4 linked regions of the Homo sapiens genome follow. The protein of the gene in region 3 purifies or fractionates together with the protein of the main gene of each other region. This does not show direct contact. Each region holds a gene or a part of one and is shown on either strand. Other genes may lie near its edges. The genes, in order: ST7, ZMYM4, RNF19B and WDR48.

Evidence for each region.
Region 1: the proteins of RNF19B (region 3) and ST7 purify together in Homo sapiens (affinity purification with mass spectrometry; 2 studies listed by BioGRID and IntAct, with this or other methods). This does not show direct contact.
Region 2: the proteins of RNF19B (region 3) and ZMYM4 purify together in Homo sapiens (affinity purification with mass spectrometry; 2 studies listed by BioGRID and IntAct, with this or other methods). This does not show direct contact.
Region 4: the proteins of RNF19B (region 3) and WDR48 purify together in Homo sapiens (affinity purification with mass spectrometry; 2 studies listed by BioGRID and IntAct, with this or other methods). This does not show direct contact.

The regions. Positions count from the first base shown.
Region 1 is NC_000007.14:117,131,472-117,138,506, reverse strand, and holds part of ST7 (suppressor of tumorigenicity 7 protein), read right to left. Parts: intron 6,623-7,035; coding exon 6,547-6,622; intron 4,384-6,546; coding exon 4,315-4,383; intron 2,427-4,314; coding exon 2,272-2,426; intron 73-2,271; coding exon 1-72. UniProt on the Homo sapiens protein: May act as a tumor suppressor.
Region 2 is NC_000001.11:35,271,697-35,278,731, forward strand, and holds part of ZMYM4 (zinc finger MYM-type protein 4), read left to right. Parts: intron 1-7,035. UniProt on the Homo sapiens protein: Plays a role in the regulation of cell morphology and cytoskeletal organization.
Region 3 is NC_000001.11:32,935,927-32,940,822, forward strand, and holds the end of RNF19B (E3 ubiquitin-protein ligase RNF19B), read right to left. Parts: intron 2,603-4,896; coding exon 2,471-2,602; intron 1,384-2,470; coding exon of another isoform or gene 1,362-1,383; exon of another isoform or gene 1,334-1,361; coding exon 880-1,333; 3' UTR 523-879; downstream 1-522.
Region 4 is NC_000003.12:39,089,984-39,097,018, reverse strand, and holds the end of WDR48 (WD repeat-containing protein 48), read right to left. Parts: intron 5,395-7,035; coding exon 5,318-5,394; intron 3,146-5,317; coding exon 2,953-3,145; coding exon of another isoform or gene 2,767-2,952; exon of another isoform or gene 2,372-2,766; coding exon 2,276-2,371; 3' UTR 355-2,275; downstream 1-354. UniProt on the Homo sapiens protein: Regulator of deubiquitinating complexes, which acts as a strong activator of USP1, USP12 and USP46. Enhances the USP1-mediated deubiquitination of FANCD2; USP1 being almost inactive by itself.

The sequences.
Region 1 (7,035 bases), on a different chromosome or scaffold from region 3:
TGGTCCTCCCGAGTCTTCTGGCACACATTGCTAGCCTTCTTTTGATGTACACCAAGACATTGGTGTCTCGTCCTGAAGAGGGAGATATAAAACACCAACATTTAAAAAAAAAAAAAATACAGAGGCCCATTTGCCTTGCCCCTAAAGGAAATTTTCATAGCACTGACAACTTTGTTAATAGTAGAATGAAGATCAAGTAAAGTAAAAGCACTTAGACTCCCAAAGGTCAAATCATCTGACTAATTACCTAATCCATGCTTTTGAGTGAGGATGTTGAATATTTGATAATAAATAAAATCATCTGCCACAAAGTGCTGCGAAAATGAACATACCCACAGTGTATACGGTTTACAAGCAGGAATTCCACATTCTTCAAGCGTGCATTCTTTTGGTAAAGATGCAGAGGTGAATCTCAGGTTACATCCTGATGAACTATTTTTTTTTCATTCTTGACATTAAGTCTGGAGAAGCCTCATCTTAAACTTCTGCTTTATATTATTCTTTCCCTAACACTAGTGACATCATAATCATCTCCAGGTCCCCTAAGCAGTTGATTTTAGATGGCAATATAACACATTCCAGATATGACAATAGAGTATGCAACAAAATGAAAAACTACCCTAGTGTTAGAGAAAGAATTGACAAGCTAAATAGTTGTAACAACAATCACTAAAATGACTCTTAAAAAGTACGTTAACAATTTCTAATCTTAATCTTTTATTTAATTATATGTCTTGTTGGATATGTTTTCAGACCAATGAGAACATGCATGTGCTTAATCCTCGATAAAAATTACCATGTTTGAGAAAATATGACACACCTGTTATAGATTAAGTACATGTATAATATGCAGCTATTAAAAGATGTTAAGACCAAAGTCCTAACATTTCAAGACTTAAACAATGAGAACAAGATGTGTGCTGAAAATCTGCCAAGTACCTACAAATTATTTTAAAAATGTGATTATATTTTTGGATGGATTTAGGCAACAGGTTGAAAAGATTTAATTTAGAGAAGAAAAGAAAGAAAATTAATGTTGTATTATAGGTTATGTAATTTTATGTATTGATTTCCATTTAGTTCACAAAATACACATTTACTACATGTCTTCAAAATGCACTGCATTACACTAAAATACTTTTTTATTAAAAAGTGAGACATAGATGGTGATTAGAGACTTTATTAGCATATATATGCTGCAGAATAAAAATAAAAACTTAGGAATTGATGTGGTACATGTGAGGACATACTCATGTATATGCAGGCTATAATGCAAAGATTTTGCTGGCACCTTAGTTATGGGGACTAATGCAGTCAGTTTCTACACCAAACCCAAGTTTAACGTTAACATTTAATTTTATAATCTCAAATATGAAGGAGATACATCCCTACTCTCTAAGTTTCAGGAGGGAGAAACTAAGTGAGAAACAAAATAACTTTGTGAATTTTGGTTGGACCATGGAAATACTCTCAAATTTTGGTTGGACCATGGAAATACTTAACTCTCTTACCACAAGGACTGCTAAATTTCTGCTTCAACAACAAACAAACTGATGAGTCGAGGGGCTCAGGGAATTCCAGAAATGATTTCGTTGTTTTGTTTCTATACTGTTCCCCCACGAAATGTCATTGGCTTTCAGTTTAGTATACTGAAGTGAAAGGTCTCAGATTTTAAAGAGTTATCTTAAATTTAAAAAGGCGTTTTTTGGGGAGTTTAAAAAGGCATTATTTTAATATAAAAAAGATAAATAACTAGGAGCTCATGGCTCTTTCTCTCTGGAAGCCAATACCAATGTTTCTTATGTAAGAGATAAATGCTGATACAATCACCAATAACTTATATTCTTAATTGTCCTATTTCAATCCATGTTGTAGAAGATCTATAAGATAAAACCTTTGCTAACACTATGGCTAATTTAAATCCTGTTTCCCATCTGGGTTTTAAAGTTGTGAGCAGAAGCAACTGATGAACAGAAATATGTAAGAACTCAGGAGGAAAAAAGGTTACTATTAAAGGTTACTGCCATTTATTTCTGCGGTTAGGAATCTATGGGCAGGAAAGAGAATGTGAATATAAACAGCAATGAAGCTGTAAGTTAATTATTTACTAACTGCACTTATAGGAAAGAAGAAAATTAATAAAAACAAAGCAAAAGCCAATATTTTCTCTTGTCTAGGAGAATCATATTTTGAACTGGACTAAAAATTTGCTCTGATTAATAATTTTTACAATTCTGATCCCCCAATGCATCAACCTGCAGGAAACCTTACTATGTTGGGCTTCATACTGGGATCCATGATGTTGTAGCTGCTGAGAGCGTCGGTAACAGCCATCTCCAGCCTTCAGGGCCTGCTTAAATAATTTTTCTGCTTCAGCAATGGTTGTTGCTTCCTCTTCAGCCAAGAGAATATAAGCAGTTGCACACCTGTTCATTCAGATAATAGCCACCATCAATTACAAAGCCAAGGACATGGTAATAGACTGTAGGAGCTCATGCAGAAAGGCAAGGAGTTACGCCAAAACATGCAGAGTGGCCAACTGGTTCATGCACTCCTGTTTGTAGTTGCTGACACAAAATAATGGTACAAAAGAAACATCTGTATTTTAGCTTGAGAGGTAGGATGCGTAGTGTTAAGAGCATGGGGCTCACATGTGGACTTCACCCTTTATATTAGTGTGTCACTTTGGGCAAGTTCTTACTCTGCCTCCCTGATGGAGAACAACATGGAATCTTTGTTCACAGTGTTGTTGTGAAGGTTAAGTAAGGTGATGCATGTAAAGTGCTCAGTACAGTAGCCAGCATGTGGTTAAGTGCTCAATAAATGTCAGCTAGTGATGGTGATGATAACAGCTGTTATTAAATAGTTCCTTCCAACACTCAAAGTTAGAGGTGCTATATACAGGTTTACTTCTGTTAACTAAACACAGATTATCTTCAATCTAAGGATTTCTTCAGAATAAGAAATTCGTTAAATCAAGTTACTCACTGAAAAAAAACACAGTGCTTCAACATCTCTTTACAGTTAGCACTGACTTTCTGCTTCAGAGAACACTGGAAGAACCTACAAGTAGTGTTATTTCTGAAGAACTCAAAATCTGACTCAGCCACAGTAGCTAACAAGTTAAATCTCATGCCTTCAACAACAATAGCTACCACTTGTTGCTTAGTATATATTAAGCACTGTACCAGGCACTTAACATATATCATCTCATATAATCTTTTCAACAACCCTCTTAGGTGGGAAGCCAAAAGGATAATTAATGAACATGGGGAGTTCTTGTGAATTTAAACCTTCCAAAGCATATGAGGAACAACCCACTGCCAAAGAAAGGGAATGTAATAGGGAAGTGGTGAGGCTGTAACAGACCACGCAGGTCCTGCACCCATCCTTTCACTCTCCTTCCCCACTGCCTCACTTGTGGCCATTTCCCTACTTATTTCCATCAGACCACAAGAGAGAAAATAAACAGAAAGTAAAACCAAATGTTACTTTTACTGTCCACAAACTGCAATAGCCAGCTAGGAAAAGGAGGCTGAACTTCACAGCTAATGTAAGGGCTGGGGCTACTAGTTAATCTTAGCCTTAGGAAGGGTCTGTAAGGTCTTTAGCCAGTCTCTCTAATTTCAGGCAGGAACCATCAATGGGGCTTTAAACAATGTGGTGAGGTAGGGAGAAAAATGCCCAGAAAAACAGCTATAAAACCAATTTCTACAGATGGCAGCATCCATGACTTGGAAAGAACCATAATGATGCTGAAACTATACAAGTGATTCACTGGAGAAAATAACTGGGACAGGCATCAGAAGAAATGCTTAAGGCTTCAGATGCCAACATATAAATATGAGGCAAGGGTAATGAAGTGAAAATTGAGATTGTAATACTGAGTGGTAGATACAGTATCAGAGGAATTAGCTATAAGATTGTAGTTGTTGGGCTGGGAACCCAAGAATGGTTGGGGCTAGCTTGCTTGCTTTGCTTATTTATATTTCAAATGGTATTCTTAGGAGGAGAGGCAGAGTAGCACTACTGGCCAAGAAACATACATCTATGTGGAAACGCATGAGTTTGGGATAGAAACATGCTAAGAGCTTGTGAGTGAAGGAAAAAGGAGAGAGCAATAGAAGTGCTAATGGTTGGGGAGTACAGAACAGACTGCTCAGCTCGATGGAAGATATAGATGATGCATCCTTGTCACAACACAATACACATACAGAAGCAAGAAAGTGTGGTGATGGGGGTGTCAACCATCCAGATATCCACTAGAAGTCTCATTTGGTTAGAAGTAGGGCACCCAACAGGTTCTTGACTTACTTTGGTAACAATTTTATCTCCCAGATGGTAGAGGAAGCAATTAGGGGAACTTCAACTCTGGACCTAATTCTGACCAAGAAGAAAAAAATAGTTGGTAAAATGAAAATTGATAGGAACATTCAGAGAGAGTCACTATGTCATTTCGGAGTTCAGGGTAATCAAAGAGGGGAAGGTGGACTTCAAAAAATTCAAAGAAAAGAGGCATGATTCAATGGCATGAGATTCAGAAGGAAAAATGGTTTAAGAGGGTTGAGCAGCTTCCAAATGTTCAACTGTAACTGCAATCACAAATGATCCTCTCAGGAAGAAAAGAGGGGTGGCACTTAAGTAACCAACACGGCTTCACAGAGATTTCTCCCAGGTCAGATTTTTAAAGGACATATTTTAAAAGATGGAAAGAGGGCATGTAATGATGGTCTATAAGAGAGTGGAATGAGCTTATAAGAATAATGTCAGGAGAGCTACAATTCCAAATTAGCTGAAGCTTGCAAAAATAACAATAATAATAATAATAATAAAACAAAATAAAATACTAAAGACAACCATTTATTCCCTATTTTAAAATTATATTTAAGGCCCTATCACCGTCCCCATGTCACAAAGGCAAATAAGTAAAAAAAAAAGACAAACAACATAATAACATCAAAACAAGGAAGGTTTATTGTTAAAAGCAGTAGATAATAAAGAAAAAGCAAAACTCTCTCCCTCCTATTTTGTTCCTGGCTTCTCTATCAAGGAGAATGACTGTCAGACTGAAAAAGGGAGAAGAAATTAAACTCTAAAATGGGTAAAAAGATGTAAGATAGCAAATAATTGATCCATTCTAAATGAATTACTGGACTGGATGGGCAAATCCCAGGAAACCGAAAGACCTTGTAGGCAGGCCATGGAATTGCTCTCTGTGGATAGTTGAGGAATCACAAAGAATGGAGAGGTGCTAGAAGATGAGATGATAAATGTAGCATAAATTTTCAAAAAGGGGAAGAAGGCAGACTTCCCAAACTACAGAACACAGTGATTTGGAAAGATATTCTAATGGATTATTAAAGGAATGGTCTCCAAGCACTTTAAAAAGAAAGTAGTGACGACTAGAAGCCAGCTTATATTCACTAAGAATAAATAAATCAGATTGTGCTAGCTTAATTTACTGTAATAGATTTACTATAAATTTAAGATCCGCAGCTACGATTGGCATTCTTAAGATCCAAATGGAGAAATATGAGCTGAGTCACAGTGTAACTGGGTGGCTTAGTAATTGAGTGAACAATACAAAAGATGGTGATTCATGAAGACATGAACCTGGAGGGTAGTTTCTATGTCATGTCACAGGGCTCTATTCCTGGCCTTCATATTTTTCTCAGAAATATGGATGACACACAGAAGGCAGGCATATCGAATTTGTAGATGACAAGAAACTGGAAAATAAATATGTTGCATGACAGAATCAGAAACCGTAGATCAACTGGTTACAATGGCAGGATTTTCAACTCTCACGACAATCTTTTTTTTTTTTCCCTAAGATCTCTGAAGAAGATTCTGTAACCTTCTTCAGAAAAATCATAAAATAGTTTAACAATGACCACTTGGCAAGGATAGTGTTGAGGTGATTCAAGCACCAGATGGGTGGTTCAGCTAAGTGACCTTTAAGGTCTCTGCCAACCCTGAGTTTTTATGACTCCAACTTTAAGAATCTTTCTCATTTTCTGAGATCTCCAGAAGAGATTTCCCAGCCTTCCTTGGTAACCCACAGAATGTTTAACAACACTCAAGACAGCATTTCCTCTTATCTTTGTCTTAATCTTGAAGTATTTTCTAAAATTTTTTTTTTAAACCTTATGTTGTTATCATGTTTTCCCCACTAGCAGAAGTTCTACTAGAAAATGTTCTAGTGCAGATGAGCATTCTACATCTGGAAAATTTTCCCTGTCAGAATGTTTTAGATATGTAAAGAATTGTATTTATTTTATATCCTCACAATATCCTAGGGATAGCCCTTCAAGAAATTAATTTAGGATCACAGCAAAGCCATTGAATTCATAAAATGACTAAAACCACCTCCACATGGTGGCTGTCCTTCATTTAAAAAAAAAACTTTTTTAAATAGAGTAATAACTCCCCAAATAATCCTCCAGTTCAAATGCAGTTTAATTTAAGTATCCTATCAATGGCAACTGAATATATTCAGCAAAGGATGAGATTTCCTTTTTAACAGCAAGATTTTCCCCCACTTACTCATTTATCTCCAAGGCTTCATGAGCTGCAGAAATCCTAGCTTGGGGGTTTCTCTCTCTCCAGGCTTTCTGCATTACTATTTAAGAAAAAGAGAAAACACCAAGTCAATCCATACATATAATTAGGTAGACTCAGTAGAGGACAAGAGCTAAATTAGGAGTGTCAGCTTAAATTACAAGAACATATTTCATTGCTAAGAGGGTTGGCCAAAATCTCCAAAGTCATATTAGTGTATTAATGTGCTATTCCACAGTATTTCAACTGCTGATAGCAAACCTTTTTTGTGCTCACAAAACTACAGGCTAAGGAAATCAAGAAAAGGCACTCTAACAGAGATTTTGCGTGTCTTTTGCACATTAATGTCATTTGTTCTTGGAGAATATATTTTATGCATTTTGAGATGACATTGCTACCAACCTTTTCATTCACTTAGATACAACATAATTGGTCATTTTCCGAAGCACTTAACACAGACTCTTGGTGTTAGAA
Region 2 (7,035 bases), 2.3 Mb from region 3:
CTGGCCCAAAAGTTAATTTTATTTTTAACAACCTATAACATACGCAGGACTTGTATAGGTTTCCCCCATTATTTTGCCAGTTTCATCACAGAGGAAAATTACATTCATTGATTTTTGGAATTAATGGTGTGGTGGCACATGCTTCTAGTCCTCGCTATTCAGAGGTTGAGGTGGGAGCATTGCTTGAGCCCAGGAGTTGGAGGTTGCAGTGAGCTATGATATTGCCACTGCTCTCCAGCCTGGGTGACAGAGGGAAACCCCCTCTCTAGAAAAAGTAAAAATAATACATAAATAATATTTTTTGATCCATAATTCATTTTGTTTTTGATATTTCATTAGAATGTTCGGTATGATTGTCTTAAATGATATAAGTACTTTTTTCCACTTTTTTTTGGTGTGTGCCAAATTACATGTGGATTCCATATGTATACTCCAAGCCGATTAATGGGGACTATGCAGTACCATGTCTTTGGAAATTGACTGCCTTGAGGGAGTTGAAACAAACTATCCACATAGACTTAGATAGTAACTTTAGGCTATTCAATCTGAAATTGCATTGATGACATGGTATTGTACTTAATGATGCTTACTGCTTTTGACCTTTGTAATCATGTCACAAAAAAGTTGCTAAGCACCTGTGCTATTTCATAAGCTACATGCTAGGCATTGTGCTTTGTTACTTAGGGTCATTTAGGATAATATATGCTGGCTCTCTTGATAAATTGTGAACTCCTTTAACATAGTATCTATTTCATTGCTTTTTGCGTCTGGACATCTTGTGACCTCTACACAGTAGGAACTCAAAAGACTTGCTGACTTATTTTTGTAAGAATAGCTTACCTAGTACAGCAGAGGCTCTATGGGTTGAGTACCAAGTTCTCTGCTTTGTAATTTTGAGGGGCTCTGTAAATCTTTCATAGCGTCCTTTACTCCCCAGAGTTCTCTCCTATGGATCCAGATTTAGGGATCTTCTGATTGTTCTGGATTATGGTTAGATGGGCAGGTGACTGCATTTTTTGTTGTTGTTTTTGAGATGGAGTCTTGCTCTGTCGCCCATGCTGGAGTGCAGTGGCGCTATCTCAGCTCACTGCAAGCTCCGCCTCCCGGGTTCACGCCATTCCTTCGCCTCAGCCTCCCGAGTAGCTGGGACTACAGGCTCCCACCACCATGCCCGGCTAATTTTTTGTTTCTGTATTTTTAGTAGAGACGGGGTTTCACCATGTTAGCCAGGATGGTCTCGATCTCCTGACCTCGTGATCCACCCGCCTCGGCCTCCCAAAGTGCTAGGATTACAGGCGTGAGCCACCACGCCCAGCCGGTGACTGCATTTTAAGACCATTGGGTTAACAACCTTAAATTCTAGGTAGGCCTGCCTGATGTCTTGTTTTTATATTTGTGGGCAGTCGGAACACTTGTATTCAGAATATGCTGGAATGCTAGTCTCTCAATTTGTGAACACGGGGGAGCTGAGTATGTGGGTGGATCAGCGCTATATTCATCTATCATCTCTAGTATAGAGAGAATTAAGTTCATATCCTAGTGCCTATACATGAAGGCGTTACAGCAAGCATCACACCCACACAAATACATACACACACACACACTTTAAAGTTGGCATATTATTTAATTTTTTTAGATGATAAAATTTTTGTTTTCTCAAATAGCTTTTAAGACTCATTAGGTAGGCTTATTATAAATGATTGAATTATTTATGCATGGCTATTATAATAACCAGTATGTTATGAAGTATGAGGTCTAACTAAATCGGGCGGCCATATTTTGTTGTAAAATCCTTGTCTTTTCAAAGTTTACATACAAAATAATAACTTTTGTAAATGTAAATATTACCCGGTCTAGTAAATTGTATTCATTTTCATACTTAAAATTCTGTGTGTATTAAATTTGAGATGTATATACCTGGTATGCTTAAAAAAGAGAGAAAGCATATGTATAAGTAGTATGCTTCCATTTTTTGTGAAAAACAAAACAAAACGACCTTTCTTGCCTCCCCACATTTGTGTCTGTATATGCTTGTACATGTATGAACTTAGAGAAAATTGTGGAGGACACAGTTTGGGATATTACCACTGATTACCTTCAGTGGGTAGGGAGGAGAAACGAAAGAGAGTATAAGGGTGCAAATTTCACAAAGTGGAAAAAGTATTCATGGTATAATGCTAAGTGAAAATGTAGACTATAAAATGTTATCTATTAATATATAAATCTGTGAAAATTGAACACACATATAGACAGTAGAAAATACGAACAAATGAAAGCATTGACTTCATGATGTGATGGGATATGGAGAAGTTTTATTTTGAATTTCTGTTATTTTAATATTTTATAATAAAATAATTGCAAAAGATTGATCCCTCTTAATTCCTTAATTAACTTTTTCTCTTTTCTGTCTTTTTGCTAAATGTATTACTTAAAAACATGGCGGTACATATCATTACAATATTTGCGGTTTATATGTATGCAATGTGAATAATTTGCTTTTAGAAAGTATTGACTCTTTGTTTAGAGACCATTTGAAGAGGCCATTCAAATACAGTGATTCTGCATTGTTTTCACACTGCTTCCCATCTTGTAACACACAGAGGGATCTGTAAATAATAATACTTGTGGCTGGGTACAGTGGTTCATGCTTGTAATCCTAGCACTTTGGGAGGCCGAGGCAGGAGGATGGCATGAGGCCAGGAGTTTGAGACCATCCTGGACAACATAGCAAGACCCCATCTCTACAATAAATTAAAAAAATTACCCGAGGTTTAGTAGCCTCGTCTACTCATGAGGCTGAGGTGGGAGGATTGCTTGGAGGATTGCTTGAGCCTAGGATTTCGAGATTGCATTGAACTATGATTGTGCCACTGCACTTTAGCCTGGGTGACAGAGCAAGAGAGACACTGTTTTTTTTTTTAAAAAAAAAAAAAAAAAAGGAGAGGCCATTCTAATACTGAGAATGATTCTGAGTTGTTTTCACACGCTGGTTCTTCCCATCTTGTAATAAGCAGAGACATCTATAAATAATGATAATACTTGGTATTATAAACCCTTAAGTGCCAGTCATTTTTCTAAGTATTTTACATGTGATGTATTTTTCAACCACAATTATTGTCCCATTTTATAAATTAGGAAATTAAGGCACAGAGAGATTTGCTGGAGATATGATGGCTAAATCAGGATCAATTATTACTTGAACTGGTCCTGTTCGATCATATAGGTTAGAACTTTTGTTTATCCAGAAATATTATGGTTAGTGTTTATATTCTCATTTGTAAAATAAAGCACATAATTCTTTATCTGGAATGTATGGATGTTAGAATAATTTGAATTACATTCAAACAAAGTTGATGTAAGTTACTTCTTAGGAATCATTAAGTTAACTTGTTCCCTAAGAAATACATTTTTGTTTGAGATCATCTTAAAATATGTATTCACAGCTCACATTTATTTTTTAGAAAATATACACTAAATATTTTGAAGCTGTGATTTACTTTAAAGATTATGTTTGTACTTTTTTTGACAATGGAAAGATTTTCTTTTTTCTTTTCTTTTTTTTTGAGACAGAGTCTTGCTCTGTCGCCTAGGCTGGAGTACAGTGGTGCCATCTCAGCTCACTACAACCTCCACCTCCTGGGTTCAAGCAATTCTCCTGCCTCAGTCCCCCGAGTAGCTAGGATTACAGGCGTGCACCACAATGCCCAGCTAATTTTTAGACAGGGTTTCACCATGTTGGCCAGGCTGGTCTTGAACTCCTGACCTCATGATCTGCCCGCCTCAGCCTCCCAAAGTGCTGGGATTACAGGCGTGAGCCACTGTGCCTTGCCAGAAAGGTTTTCTTACTAAAGAATATGTAAGTAGATAAATATAAAATTTCAGTTTCTATGGATACTTAAGAGGTATTTTTGAATTCTGTATTAGGAGAACAGCCACTATTTAAAGAAAAGTGATATTTCCCTTAAAAATTCTGATTATTTTACTATGAGCTAACTGTATGTACTTACTTTAGCAAAGGAGAAAGGCAAGTATTGTATAAATGTACTGTATTCAACCCAACAAAATTGCTAATACTTGACCATTTGACTTAAAAAAAAATGACACTTTTATGTGGCTTAGCCATTAGCAGGAGCATGGGTTTTTCAAAGTCAGTTTATGGTATAATCTCTGGAATTTAGCAATTTTGGGGTAGTAATAGTTCTTATCCAACCTTCTCATACCTATACCCACTTTCTTGTACTTAGGAAATATTTATATTGTTATTTTAATTTCATTCATATCATCTTTCTGGCCTCCTAGAAGCTTTAATTAGCTGCCTTTGACCAAAGATAGTCCTTTTTTTTGTTTTGTTTTGGTCTATCCAGCGTATAGAACCCAGCACTGTCAGTTCTTTGAGAACCCAGCACATATCAAGAATCATATGTGTTTTTCTTTCTTTACACTTCCCAATATGTCTTACAAATGTATTTTAATACTGACATGCATATTATACATTTATAAGCCAAAAATTAATCTACTATTCCTGTCTCATCTAACTACTCATTTCTGTCCCTCCCTCCCTCCCTCCTTCCCTCCCTCCCTCCCTTCTTTCTTCCCTCCTTTCCTTTCCTTCCTCCTTCCTTCCTTTTTTTCCATAGTTGAAATAATTTCAAAGAAATAACACACATCACATCATTTAATCTATAAATACTTCCGTGTGTATTTCTAACAGATAAGAATTTTTAACAAGCACAACCACAATACTGTTACGACCTAACAAAAGAGTTCCTTAATCCAGTCTGTGTTCAGACTTCTCTTATTCTTTAAGTGTCTTTTTACACTGATTTGTTTAAATCATCCAACTAAGAGTTACACATTTCATTTAGTTTATATGTTTCTTAAGTTTTTCTTAACCTTAATCACCTCCCCCCACCTTTTTTTTTCTTTTTGAAATGGAGTTTTGCCCTTGTTGCCCAGGCTGGAGTGCAGTGGCGTGATCTTGGCTCACTGCATCGTCCGTCTCCTGGGTTCAAGCGATTTTCCTGCTTCAGCCTCCCGAGTAGCTGGGATTATAGGCATGCACCACCAGCCTTGGCTTATTTTGTGTTTTTAGTAGCGACAGGGTTTTGCCATGTTGGCCAAGCTGGTCTCAAGCTCCTGATTTCAAGTGATCCACCCGCCTCCGCCTCCCAAAGTGCTGGGATTATAGGCATGAGCCACTGCACCCAGCCAATAATCCCCTTTCTTAACTCATACCCCCTGTGCTCCTTTCCCATGCTATTTATTTGTTGAAAAAAATAGGTTATTGTTCCAGGATAATTTTCCACATTTTGGATTTGGCTGATTGAATCCTTGTTATGGTATTTAACATGTTCCTTTACCCCTCATATTTCCCACAAATTAGTAGTTAAATACAGAGCAGTGGTTCTGAACTTTGGCTAAAACTTTAGAATTATCTGGAGAGCTTTTAGTTATCCTGATCCCTAGGCCACATCTCCGATAAATTAATCAGAGCCCATGAGGTAAAATGTCATCATCAATATTTTAAAAAATTTACCAAGTGATTTCAGTCTGTAGCCAAGATTGAGAGCCCTAGTTGGTAGAGCTTGATGAGTTTAGGTTCAGTTTCTTTGGCAAGAAATATTTATAAAGAGTGGTTATATAATTTATTTGCAATCAGACAATTTTGAGAATGAAAGGGGGTGCTATAATGATTACACAGAAGGAATAGTTTAAACTGGAATTGTTCTAGACAAATTAGGATTTATAGTCATTCCATTAGATGGGGCTGTGAATTCTTGTTGGATCGTTCTAGGAGGTAACTTAAGTGGTGGTTCTACTTTTAGTGATACTAAATGGATCATTTGGTTTAGGTTCTGTCAGTGGGATCCAAATGTAATTTATTTTTAACTTTTCACTTAATGATAATTCTTGCCTATATCCATTATTTCATTAGAAGAGTGATTTTTTTTGGTCATTTCTTTTGTATTTATTAACTGGAATTCTTTCATAAAGAATTCCCTCATCAATTATTTGGTTACCTTGTAATACGGTTTGTAAAGAAAAAGCAGGATAAATGCTTATTTTTTTCCCCTTTATCAGTAATTTTCAGAAAAATGAATTGATGCCCGCCCTCACAACTCCCAAAGGTGAGGTTTGGGAGGGAGTATCATTAGGAACTCATGAGTTTTACCATATGTGATACATTCTAATTTATCATAGTCATTATTTTTGGTGTTCAATTTGTTGTATCTTTGATGATTGGCGGTCTCTTAAATTAGTTTCCTAAGGCTGCCAAAAAACTGCTACATACTTGGTAGCTTAAAACATCAGAAATTATCTCACAGTTTTGGAGGCTAGAAGTCCAAAATCAAGGCTCTAGGGAAGAATCTTTGCTTGTCTCTTCTATCTTCTTGTGGCTTGGTTGGTATTCCTTGACTTGTGGCGGCAAAACTCCTGTCTTTGCCTTCATCTTCCCTTGGTCTTCTTTCTGCATCTTCTTTTCTGTCTCTTAGGGTCTACCTTATTCCTGGATGTTCTCAGCTCAAGATCCTTACCATAATTACCTCTCCAAAGATCTAGTCTGCTCACATACTGTGGTTCTGGGTGGACATAACTTTTGGGAGCCACAGTTTAATACACTACAGTTCTTTTTTTGACCCCTAAAACTTCATTTACATCCCATATGCAAAATAAATTCACCTCATCCCAACATCCTCAAAAGTCTCGACCTATTACAGCATGAACTCTGTTTTTTTTTTTTTTTTTTAGATGGAATTTCACTCTCTCGCCCAGGCTGGAGTGTAGTGGCAGAATCTTGGCTCACTGCAACCTCTGCCTCCTGGGTTCAAGCCATTTTCCTGCCTCAGTCTCCCAAGTAGCTGGGACTACAGGAGCGTGCCGCCATGCCTGGCTAATTTTTTGTATTTTTAGTGGAGACGGGGTTTCACTATGTTAGGATGGGCTCCATCTCCTGACCTCGTGATCTGCCCGCCTCGGCCTCCCAAAGTGCTGGGATTACAGGCATGAGCCACCATGCCCAGCTACAGCATGAAC
Region 3 (4,896 bases):
TTAATAGAGGCGTGGTTTCACCATGTTGGCCAGGTGGGTCTCAAACAGCTGGCCTCAAATGATCCACCTGCCTCGGCCTCCCAAAGTGCTGGGATTACAGGCGTGAGCCACCATGCCTGACCACTGAGAATTCTCTTAAGAGCTACCTGGGACTGCCACTCCTTCTCTCCTCTGAAGCATATGACTACTAGTGACTATAATGCAGAAAAGGGCAAAGTTTTAAGAGTAAATTGCACAGTTGCTTCTAGAGGGCAAACAAAGTTAGTTTTAATCTACTGCTTCCCTATTCAGCTGACTCAGCTAATAATTCTTCAGCCTGACTACAAAGTCCAAAACAAGCCTAGCTTTGCTTCCTGTCATGCTAGGAGTCATAGGTTTATAGATGACTACTGCGGTTGGATTTGAATACAATCCTTCTTCCCTTGGATTAGAAAAATTCAGGTCTAGAGACTGTCAAAGATGGTGCTTTGTTTCAAACACTTGGCTCTGTGGGACTATCCAAGCCAAGGAAAATGAGGTAAGTTGAATTATGACAGAAATCTTTATTAAAATGTGTCTTTCAGTAATATGTTTAGCATTCAATATACACACATACATATGTACACTCTTTGACACACCTCATGGATTGCTGCCATCAGTTTAACCAATAAATTAAAACTAAAAAGAGGGAGGGGAGGGGAGGGGAACTAACGGCAAACTTTTCATGTTTTATCTGGTAAGAAATTGTGAATTTCTCAGAATTTCCCTGGGCAAAAACCTGTGACCAGAGAATCTGTGAAATAAAATACATAAATCTCTACCCCTTGGAAAAAAAAAAAAAAAAATTCCAAAAGATGCAGTTACAAGTGTGCTTCTCAGAACAGGAGCATTCATTCCACTTCATACTCTGGCTTCTCCACCTTCTGGCTTCAAGACAGTTTGTCCCTCGGCTAGGGCAGAGAGGTTCATATGGGCACTTGGGCTCGGTGCACCTTGGGCTCTGGGGGTCGAGGGGCAGGCTGCAGTATGGGAGCGGGGGGAGCCACACTCATCTGAGGTGATGTCTGGCACATCGTCTGACTGTGCATCAGAACTCTCTAGGTCACTGCGGATGCTTTCAGGCTGGGCCAGGCTGATGTCCCAAGGTTTGCTGGCCAGGCAGTCTTTCTGTTCACAGCTTTGGTGTCTGCAGGGGGGATCCTCTTCACTGCCTCCGCCACCACTACCTTCTTCTTCATTCTCTGCCATCTGAGCATGAACATGGAGCGAGTCCTCCGTGCTGCTTCCACTCACCAGCTGATAGTGGCTTGGTTTGGCTTCAATGTCCACTTGGATTTCCATATTGTTGCATTCTCTGTGGAGACAAAATCCACTTTGCTGAGTCATGCATGGATCATGCTAAACCTGTTGGTAAAAGCAGTTCATGGGTTCAGGATTAGGAATTTCAAAAAGATAGGTGAACAGTTAACTAGAGCTCACTTTTAACAAAAATAACATTTTAATCTAACACTCAAATGAGATGGAGGCTGGACGTGGTGGCTCATGCCTATAACCCCAGCGCTTTGGGAGGTCGAGGTGTGAGGACTGCCTGAGTCCAGGAGTTTGAGACCAGCCAGGGCAACAAAGTCAGACCCTGTTTCTAAAATAAAAAAAATTAGCTGGGCATGGAGGCACGTGCCTGTAGTCCCAGCTACTCGGGAGGCTGAGATGGGAAGATCACTTGAACCCAGGAGTTCAAGGCTGCAGTGAGTTATGATTGTGTCACTGCACTCCAGCCTGGTTGACAGAGCAAGACCCTGTCTCTAAAAAAACAAAAATAAAAATAAATGAGATGGAGAAGAGTAATTAGATCCTTTTTGCTGATTTAACTATACATGCACACGTGTGCTCAGATGCACACACACGTGTATCTCAGCCAATCTCTTTAAACATACAGAAAGAGCTTCCAAAATTCAACTAAGGGTCAGAGCCCCATGCTAGCTTACTCAAAATAGAAAAGTAAAAGCTTTTTACTACCATGCCACAAGTAGAAGAAGCCAGAATACCTACTAGTGGGAGTACCACAATCACACCATCCCAGATACACCAGTTTCTCAAAATGAAAGAGAAAGAAGCTATGGGAATCCTATCAAGCAAAGGGCAAGCAGAAACCCTAGACTTGAAGACATCAATGAACATCAATCTAGCTCTTTAAGTTCCATGTAATTATACACTGTTGCAATAGCCAAGAAAGACAAAAAAAAAAAAAAAAAAAAGAAAAAATACATAAAAGGAAGAAAGAAAAGAAATCTCTAAAAATCAAGCGCTAACAAGAAGAATCAAGAGATGCCAAACACTCAAGTACCAAGAACTTGCTCAAATGAATTCACAGGTTACACTATATATCCCAGGAGATGGTACATACAGCCCTAACATGAGGCATTGAACTTCTGAAGACCTAGTACCCAACGAAAAAATGCAACCTCTCCTGGACATCTGACTGTTCACATACCTGTCCTGTGGGTTGTAGGAACTGATTATGGAACCGGCCATAGCACGAGTGCTTGCGTTGTCACTAATTGCACCAAGACTGGCTGTGTCTTTGGGGAAAATTTCCTTTTGGACATCGGCTTGAACTTCTAACCTGTGTAAAGAGGGGACGTTCAAGTTAATATGAGACCTGGGTATTCCAAGACAGTCTGCTTCCTGGCACACATCTCTTCCATTACTCTCTTGCAAATTGTGGTTGTCTGTCTGATCTTCTCCAACTGTCAAACAGCGCAAATAGATGCCCATACATTTTTTCTCTTAAATATCTATTGAAATCGTCCCCTCCTTTCTATCCCCACAGCTACTGCTGAACTTCAGGTTTTCATCATCTCCTGCCTGGATGACTAAAACTGGGCTCCCTCTCCAGTAGCCCTTAAGTCCAAGTCAAACAACCTCTAGAACAGTGCCAGTGTGAATAAAGACCCAATCACTCTAACAATTCTCTAACTCTTGGCTCCCTACTGCCAACAGGCATTAAGGTCTTCCTGATCTGCCAGGAAGCTCTCTGTCCAGTTCTATCACTCCCTATAGATCCGAAATCATAGTCACTCTGAATTCTTTCTTTCTTTAAATACCTATACATTTTATACTTCCATGACTTTGCACATGCTATTCTGTCTCTCTAGAAATTTCCTTTCTCTACCAGACAAACTTATACTCAGTCCTTAACAACAAAGGAACTATCACTTCCCCTCATTATCCCAGCAAACCATTCACTTCTTGCTAAGTACTCCCACAGCACCTGCCTACTTATTTATTATTATTTGTTTTTAGAGGGAGTCTCACTCTGTCACCCAGGCTGGAGTGCAGTGGCACGATCTTGGCTCACTGCAACTTCTGCCTCCCAGGTTCAAGCGATTCTCCTGCCTCAGCCTCCCAAGTAGCTGGGATTATGGGTTCCCACCACCACACCCAGCTAATTTTTGTATTTTTAGTAGAGATGGGGTTTTACCATGTTGGCCAGGCTGGTCTTGAACTCTAAACCTCAGGTGATCACCCACCTAAAAAAGGTGCTGGGATTACAGGCGTGCGCAGGCCCTGCCTACTTATTATTATGCATCTCTCACTTGTCTGTTAACTCCACAAAAGGAGAGACCACAACTCATACACACTTTACCTTCCCTGCCTTGCACATAATAGGAAATCAAACATTTAACAATCAAATTACCTCCAGGGAATGAGACTGAAGGACATACAGGAGCCAACCTCTTCCCTCCTCTTGGAGCAGCAAACTTTCCCAATAGTGTCTCAGAGCCCATAACTATTGCCTTTCTTGGCTCCAACATCACTTTGTTGCACAGTTAAGTATTTCCTTATAATGGGTTTCACAGTCAAACCCATCTGACTCATTCACTTCCTATAAAATAAAGGCTTTCACAGAACTAGAACAGCTGGACTGGCTAAGCTGCAGTTTCAGCAAGTCAGTCTCCAATTATGTCTGTCTGCTTATTTACAGGGGTGTTGGTTTTAAGAAAGCACAGCAGTGAATATGCCAGCATGTGGGGGCGGGATCCCCTGATAAGAGACAACCAGAGTCATGAGATGCACAGACGGGTCAGTAGCAGCCTGCAGCTGCACATTCAAGCAGCTTCCATCCTACTGCCTGAGCCTTTGCTTTGCTGCTCCAGCTTCAGGTGCCCTTCAAAAATGTGCCAAGGCCCAGGGAAATGAGGGAATGCAATGGAAAGTGCACAGTGTCAGAGACCTGGCTTCTAGTTTCAGGTCTGCCACAGAATCACTCTGAGTTGGAAGAGTCTTTCAGAAAGGGCTCCTACTTAGGTGGTTGTCAGATGCTGGTTCATGCAACGGCTGTGCTAGAATTACCTGGGGAGCTTTTGCAAAACACGGATCACCCCCTAGGTGCCACTCCAGGAAATTCTAAGCTACTCATTCTGGGATGGGTCCCTGAAGTCTATTTTTAAGAGGCTCCCAAGTGATTGACAGGCACTCAGGTGGGAGATCCAGTCCACCTGCCATCTGTTGCTTGAATCCTTCTTATAGCCAAATAGCCATCTGGTCTCATTGTAAACATTTCCAGGGATAGGCAGCTCAGTATCTACTAAAGTAGCCTTTTTCCTCTTTGGGCTTTCATGTTGCTTTTCCCTATATTCTCTATACTGAACCAAAATTAGTTTCCCTTTAGCTTCTGCCAAGTCATCTTAATCTACCTTTTGGTATGAGGCATAGAAGTCTAATCCTTTTCACAGTTGAAGGTCCTTTGGATAGCTGAAGGCAACCATCTCCTCTACCTTCCTATCCTGCTTTGTTCTACCTTTACCCCTCCCTAGGCCTTTCTTCTCCGTTGCATTCAACTGCTTCTCAGGCAACATGTTATGCTCCTCTGAAAATATACACTCTGGTCTGCCTAACTAGTGAAATGACCAAGCA
Region 4 (7,035 bases), on a different chromosome or scaffold from region 3:
GAGCAGCTGATACGTGTGCATAACAGTGAGGCATTGTGTCCTGGATCGTCTGGGAGCCCAGTGTCAAGTCTGCTGGAATGCAGGAAGTAGAACAGAATCGCCACAGGACTGTTCTGGGGCCAGCTTCCCTTAACTCTGTAGCCTGGCAGTCTGACCCAAAGTTGCCCTCACCCAAAGGTTCTGGCTCTTCCCTCCCTCACTTTTACTTTCCCTTCCCCCATAAGTTGGAGGATAAAATGGGTATCAATGCTAATATTTCCAGGGAGAACATGAAACCAGAGGTTTCTTTCTTTCTCTGTAATCTGCTATGAAAGAAAATAACAAATGAAAATAAATGTGTACTACACTTTGAAATATTTTAACTAAAGCCTTTATTCTATACAACTGTGAAATACAGATTTTTACCCTTTTGGCATTGCAGACTGTCGAATTTTCTGGAAACTGTATTACGGTTTGACTGGAGGGGAAAGAAATACAATCATGCTGGGGGTCAGATCTATGACAGGAGGGGAATGCAGCCACCCAAGGCTTAGCACACAGGGCAAAATGACCCAGCAAAACCCATTTCTTTGCTCAAAGGCCCCTCGGGCAAACACAACTGAGGGCTGGTAAATAATTTTTTTTTTCTTTGCCATTAATTCACAACTATTGCTAAAAAATGTGCACCAAAAGCACACTGTTGTATCCAACAGATAGAAAGGACTTTTAAAAAAAAAGAAGCTGGTTGCTCTCTGAGGAAGGGAGAAAGACCATTTCAACTTATTAGAAATGTGGCCACGTCTTTGCTCACTTCTTCAAAGTGCAGGTGGCAATGGCCTGTCCAGTTTCCAAAAGAAGCTGACTAGCAGTGAGGGAACCCTGTCTCTGCAGTTGTGCGATCAGAGTATCTTAAATAGTAAGGTATGGCCTTAGGCCTATCAGCTGCCCCCAGCCGAACCTGTGAAGATGTAGAAAAGAAAAAACGTTCCCTGCCTCCCTCCCTAGTCCCTGCTATGGTGGAGGCAGGCCACACACAAGCTAGGGAGGCAACTGGACTGGAATCAACTGCCCTCTGAAGGCACTTGTGCTTCTGGCTTCATACAGGAGGCTTGTCTTACAGTTTTATGGGGGTGGACCACTGATTTACTCTGAATACAAATGACCTTGGGGAGAATCCAAAGTATTTTCTGCCAAAAGTTGAAGTGTTTATCCCCAATAAGTTACACTCTATACAAGATCCAAATGATTCTATGAAAGTGTTAGATTGTTAGAACAGTGAAAAGAAGATCTGGATACAGGTACAACAAAAACCTGCATATAAAACTTTGGAAAAACAAATATGTATACTTCCAGGATATGAATATCAAATTAACTCACTATGATCTCCCTTTATTCTGACACCATAAATTTTAGGTAACATTTGAATGAAACTGAAATTTCATCATGGTCTTAAATTTTGATGGTGTCATGCTGCTCATCCAGAGCAAGAACCTGTGGTCTCAGCTCGCTTTGTGTAAATAAAACTGGACACAGTGGAGGAAGGAGTGAAACTGCTGCACCTCCCTGGGGTTGCCACAAAGCCAGGACATCATGGGAGGTGCAGCATCGCTAGGCATGGGCTGCACAAACTCCGGCCCAACAGTCCAAGTGCTATGATCCAGCACCTGGAATTTCAACAGATCTTCCTACAAGAACACATCTGAGATGCAATATTAACAACAAGCCCAACATTAATCTTTTATTATGAAATGGGCTGGTTCTCAAATTGTGCAACAGCAAATTCCCATTAAAAATAACTGTCTTAAACGGTGAAAACAATTTGATTACTTTATATGACAAACTTGGAAAAAGCCTTCATATCTACTGCATGAATGGAATGTACTGTTTTAGAAAAGCTACAGAGTGTGTGGGCTTAAAGTTGAAACAGAGACAGTTGTGGCCCGACTGAGGTGTCTCTAACAAGTGTTAATGGGTAGATAAGGTCCTTTGAAACAAAAGGAGGAAGCAAAGTCTGCACTGGCCTGTTGTCAGTCTTCTGTACATCTTGAAAGACATAGTCTGCTTGGGGCTCTTCTGCTCTTGCACTCTGCTTCCCTGGGGACAGCTTAATCTACACATGGAGACTGGTTTCTATATTACATCTCGATTAGTCACTTCAATTGAAAGATAATCTCGGTCCATACCAATCAGCCGTTAGAAGTCTTGCTCCCGTTGGGGATCAGTGGGCTTCCTAGGACTACTCTTGGGGCCATAGAGGAAGGTCGTAAATGAATATCCAGGAGCATTAGCCCAGCCTTCACGTGGACTTCTGACGGTAATGGAGGGTGAGGTCTCCACCGCTCTTCCATATGAAGTGTTTCACTGTTCGAAGGTCCATATTTGGATCCAAAACCTGAATAGCCAAAATTAAATTTAAAAATTTCAAAGTCTCTAATATCTAAAACCTTATCATTAACTCAGGGACTCTCATCAGGTGATCCAGCTTGCTCACTCCTCCCCTATGCCTGGTATCCAATTCTTGCTGTCACGGCTTCCATGCATGCGGGAATGAAATTGAGCTTAGTGAGATGTACATCTTTTGTGACTATGCCAGAAACACCAGGCCATCTTTCAGCCATTCCTCTGAGGATACGTTTTGAGTGCATCTTGATTTAAAAAACAGTTCTGCCATTTCTCCGCACACCTTCACTCTAAATCATAAACATGGCACATGCTTTTTGCAAATCAAGAAGACCATGTGTCTTTTTTCTTGTCAGAAAAAAAAGCTACCAGCACATCCACATTTGTCTATGTATCCCTTCTCTGAAAATCTCCCCAGCAGTAAAGAGGAGCTTTAGGGTGGGCTTTAGGTAGGAGAGGCCCAGGGCTCCTTAGAGCCCCTCTAAAAGTAGAAGCCCCCCACCCAAAGGCATGTAACTCTTTATGAGCACCAGCACTGGAAAAATTGGGGCTGTAGTCCTCAAGTCCACTTACCTGGTCCTGGCACAAAAGTTCAATTTTCTCCTCTGCCAACACAGCAATATCTTCTTCTTTTTCCTGTTCTCCTGGTTTTTCATTATTAGAAGAGCTAGTGGTTTGAGACTCATTATCCAAGTTGATAATTTTTTCATAAACATGTTCCATAACTTTTCGGACTTGGAGCATGTCACTAGCAGAGAGTCTATCTCTGTAAAAAAGCAATGGCATATTGTGACATCAGGGAAATCACTAGATATTATTTATTCCATATTATTTTTCTTTGATGCAAACATTTTAAAGATGAAAAATAAACCAATAAATGTTTTTAGTCATTACCTTAATCCATTTTTAGAGCTGCGGAAAGATTTTCTACAGTGTCCTTCTAAGACACAGTTTATGTACAACTAAATGAGATTAATATGTGTTCTTAAAACTTGACATATACAGGCCAGGTGTGGTGGCTCACGCCTATAATCTCAGCACTTTGGGAGGCCAAGGCAGGTGGATCACTTCAGATCAGGAGTTCAAGACCAGCCTGGCTAACCAACATGGTGAAATCCCGTCTCTACTAAAATACAAAAAATTAGCTGGGCATGGTGGTGCACGCCTGTAATTCCAGCTACTCAGGATGCAGAGGCTGCAGTGAGCCAAGATACGCCACTGCACTCTAGCCTGGGCGACAGAGTGAGACTCCATCTCAGAAAAACAAACAAAAACATTTACATATACATACATAGTAGCCTTCTGGGTTTTATTCCCTTGAATACTTTCCCAGAACCTGGGCAAACTAAATAATTCTGGAAAGGCAGGCAGCTCCCAGTGCTTACCAGGGTCCGACACTCTTAGTGCTCAATTTTCCCTGGGCTCTCCTCCCCACTGCCATGCCTTCAGCTAGCACCTGTGAGCAGACAATGCCTGAGTCTAGACCTTGAGTCTCAACCTTCTCTTCTAAACCACAAACCCAACAGCTGGTTGGGTATCTTCAGTTGGATGTCCTACAGGCACCTCAAACTCTGTATGTCCCAAACTAGACTCATCAACACCCTACTTCTGTATCTCTGATAACAGTCAATAACTATTATACCAAAAAACTAAGGCCTACGCTCTGAAAATCATTTGAACTTCAGTTGTTAAATCTATCTGAACTGATGTCTAGGACTCACTTTAAAATAATTGTGTGTGTGTGTGTGTGTGTGTGTGTGTGTAGACAGAGATGGGTGGGAGGGCAGGTAGAGGTATAGGTGAAGCAAAATGTTTAGCAAGGTATTGATAATTACTGAAGCTATCTGATGGGACGATGGGGGCTCACTAGCTTCTTTCTATATAAGTTTGGAAATCTCTGTAATAAAAAGGTTTAAAAATTTTTTTTATTTTATTTGCTAGAATACATATTGTTCATAGTTTAGCATCCCATTACTACACTACTAAAATTCTTCTCTTGGGTCTCCCTGGACCATATCCCACATTGGCTCAAAAGTTTCTGGTGTTTAGTCACTGCACGCTCTATGGCTTGGCATTCAAATCCAACATCAACAAAACCTTTAACTGCTTTTCCAATTTACCTCCTAATATCCCCCTGCTGCCCCTCCATCCCATGCTGCAGGTGCATGGGTCCTCACGTTACTTTCCACTATCTTATGCATGCTCCCACTTCCACATCCCTGATCACACTGTGTCCTGGACTTGGAATATCTATCTTTTGAAGTTCTACCAATCATTACATGTCCAACTCAAATTCCACGTCCTTCAAGAAGCCTTACTGGGAAGCTCCAGCCAAAAGCTCATTTATTTCTCTCACTCTCATTATTCCTTAAGTATCCATAAAAACAACTATTATATACAGGTTGGGTCCTAAACTGTGAATTAAGGCAACAGACAAAATGTGTGTTTTATTTATCATTTTTTTCTTAGAGACAGGGTCTCTCTCTGTTGCCCAAGCTGGAGTGCAGTAGCATGATCTTTGCTCACTGCAGCCTCAAACTTCTGATGATCCTCCTGCCTTAGCCTCCTGGCTAGCTTGGACTACAAGCGTGTGCTCCCATGCCCAGCTAATTTTTTTACTTAAATCTTTTGTAGAGACAGGAGTCTCACTACGTTGCTCAGGCTGGTCTCAAACTCCTGGCCTCAATTAATCCTCCCACCTCACCCTCCCAAAGTGTTGGGATTATGGGCGTGAGCCACTGTACCTGGCCTTATTTATTTTTGAACACCTGTAATCGGCCAAAGTTGGTACCTGGTAAGTGGTTTAATTGTATAAACTTTGAATATTATAAAATCAGCCTTAGATCTGGTATTTGCTTCCTTTGCTATAAAAGCAATCATAAGGAAAAGGAATTCTCTCTAGTAGTTAATTAGATCAAGAAACCATATATTTACTTACTTTTTTAAGGTTTTTGCTCCTGAAGATGCATGAGGTTGGAGGTAGAAAGGAATTTTGTTGAATTTGGGCATATTTTTCTGAAACAGTAAAAGTTAAAAAGGTATAACAGTTTCTATTAGTTGATAAATGAAAATAATGTTAATAGGAAAACATGACTTGCAAGTAATAATTATCTTACAATTAAAAGTGACTTTCTATGAAATGTATAGTAAGCTATCAAATTACCTAAGTCAGCCTTCGAGAAAATTCATCAGAAAAATATATGTAACATTAGAGGTAATATGAAATTGTAGCATGGCTCTTCTTAGATAACAGTACAAGGTATTAAAGGGAAACAAACTTTAATTTTTTAAGCCATACAAACCAGAATCTCAATTCTACATTAAAATATTGGAGTTGATACCTAAAGGCCCAAACAAAAACTTAAGTGTCTTGAGAGAAACCCACAGCATTCACCTTTGAGCAAAGCCACACATTCTGTGCTGGTGAGGCCCATCATCCAACTGAAAAGGCCAATCAAAGTCCTCCCATTTTCTTTCCCTCTGACATCACAGTGAGGTCTGAGGTGTTAAGAAAGAGTGGAAACTTCAGCCAAGAACCCAGATGTCTACCATGAAGTAAACCACATTCTTAGATGAAGGATAAAATTACGTGGTCATCTTTTCTCAGGGTATTAATCCCCTCCAAGCCTTCATGTCACATCCTGTCTGGATGTCTCCTCTCAAGAATAAGCCACAGGGCTAAAGTCAGCAATGCGTCCCAGGTGAGTTTCACACTCAAAGAAATTAGTGGCTTATGGGGTGCTCAGGCATAGAGAAGACCATGGAATATCCATCAGGTGTCACATTGGCTTTAAGTCTTAGAGGTATATCCGGGACAGAAAATAAAGTTTCTGAAGGTTCTAAAGATTAAATTCCTTTTCATATGGCTTTAGAAAGATACAAAATAGACCAACAGTACATAAGAGAGTCTAGAAGCAGACCCATGTGTATACAGAAATTTAGTACATGATAAACATAGCATCCCAGATAAGTAGAAAAAGGACAGATTTTCAATAAATTGTGCTAGCACACTAGCTGTCCCTTTGGAAAAAGTCTAAATCCTACTTCACACCAAACAGAAGACTAAATTCTAATAGATTAGAGAGCTAGACATAATTATCATAAAAGAACTAGAAGAGAATATAGGAGAATATTTTTGTTACTTTGGAGTAGGAAATACCTAAACAAGACATGAAACTAAGAGCCATCAAGGATCAATTTGATTATATAAAAAGTAAAACTTTTCACCTGGCAAAAGGAACAAAGTGAAAATTTAATTGAGACACAGATAATAGTTAAAGGGTTAATATTCAATATAAACCACCACCCCACAAATCAGTAAGAAAAATGACCCAATAGAAAAATGGGTAAAGAATACAAACAGGTAATTCACAGAAGAAAAACAAATGGCCAATATGAAAAGATGCTTAACCTCACTATTAATTTGTTTTTAATCCACATAAAAATAATGAGATACTATTTGCCTATTTTTTAGCAAAGATTAGAAGTATCCAGTGTTGGTGCAGGTGTGGGGAAATGGGCACTCATACACTGTTGGTGAGAATGTAGACTACTACAGCCTTTGTGGAGGGCAATTTGGCAGTATCTATCAAAATTTAAAATGTGCATAACCTTGGATCCAGCAATTCCACTTCTAGGAATTTATCCTAAAAAGCA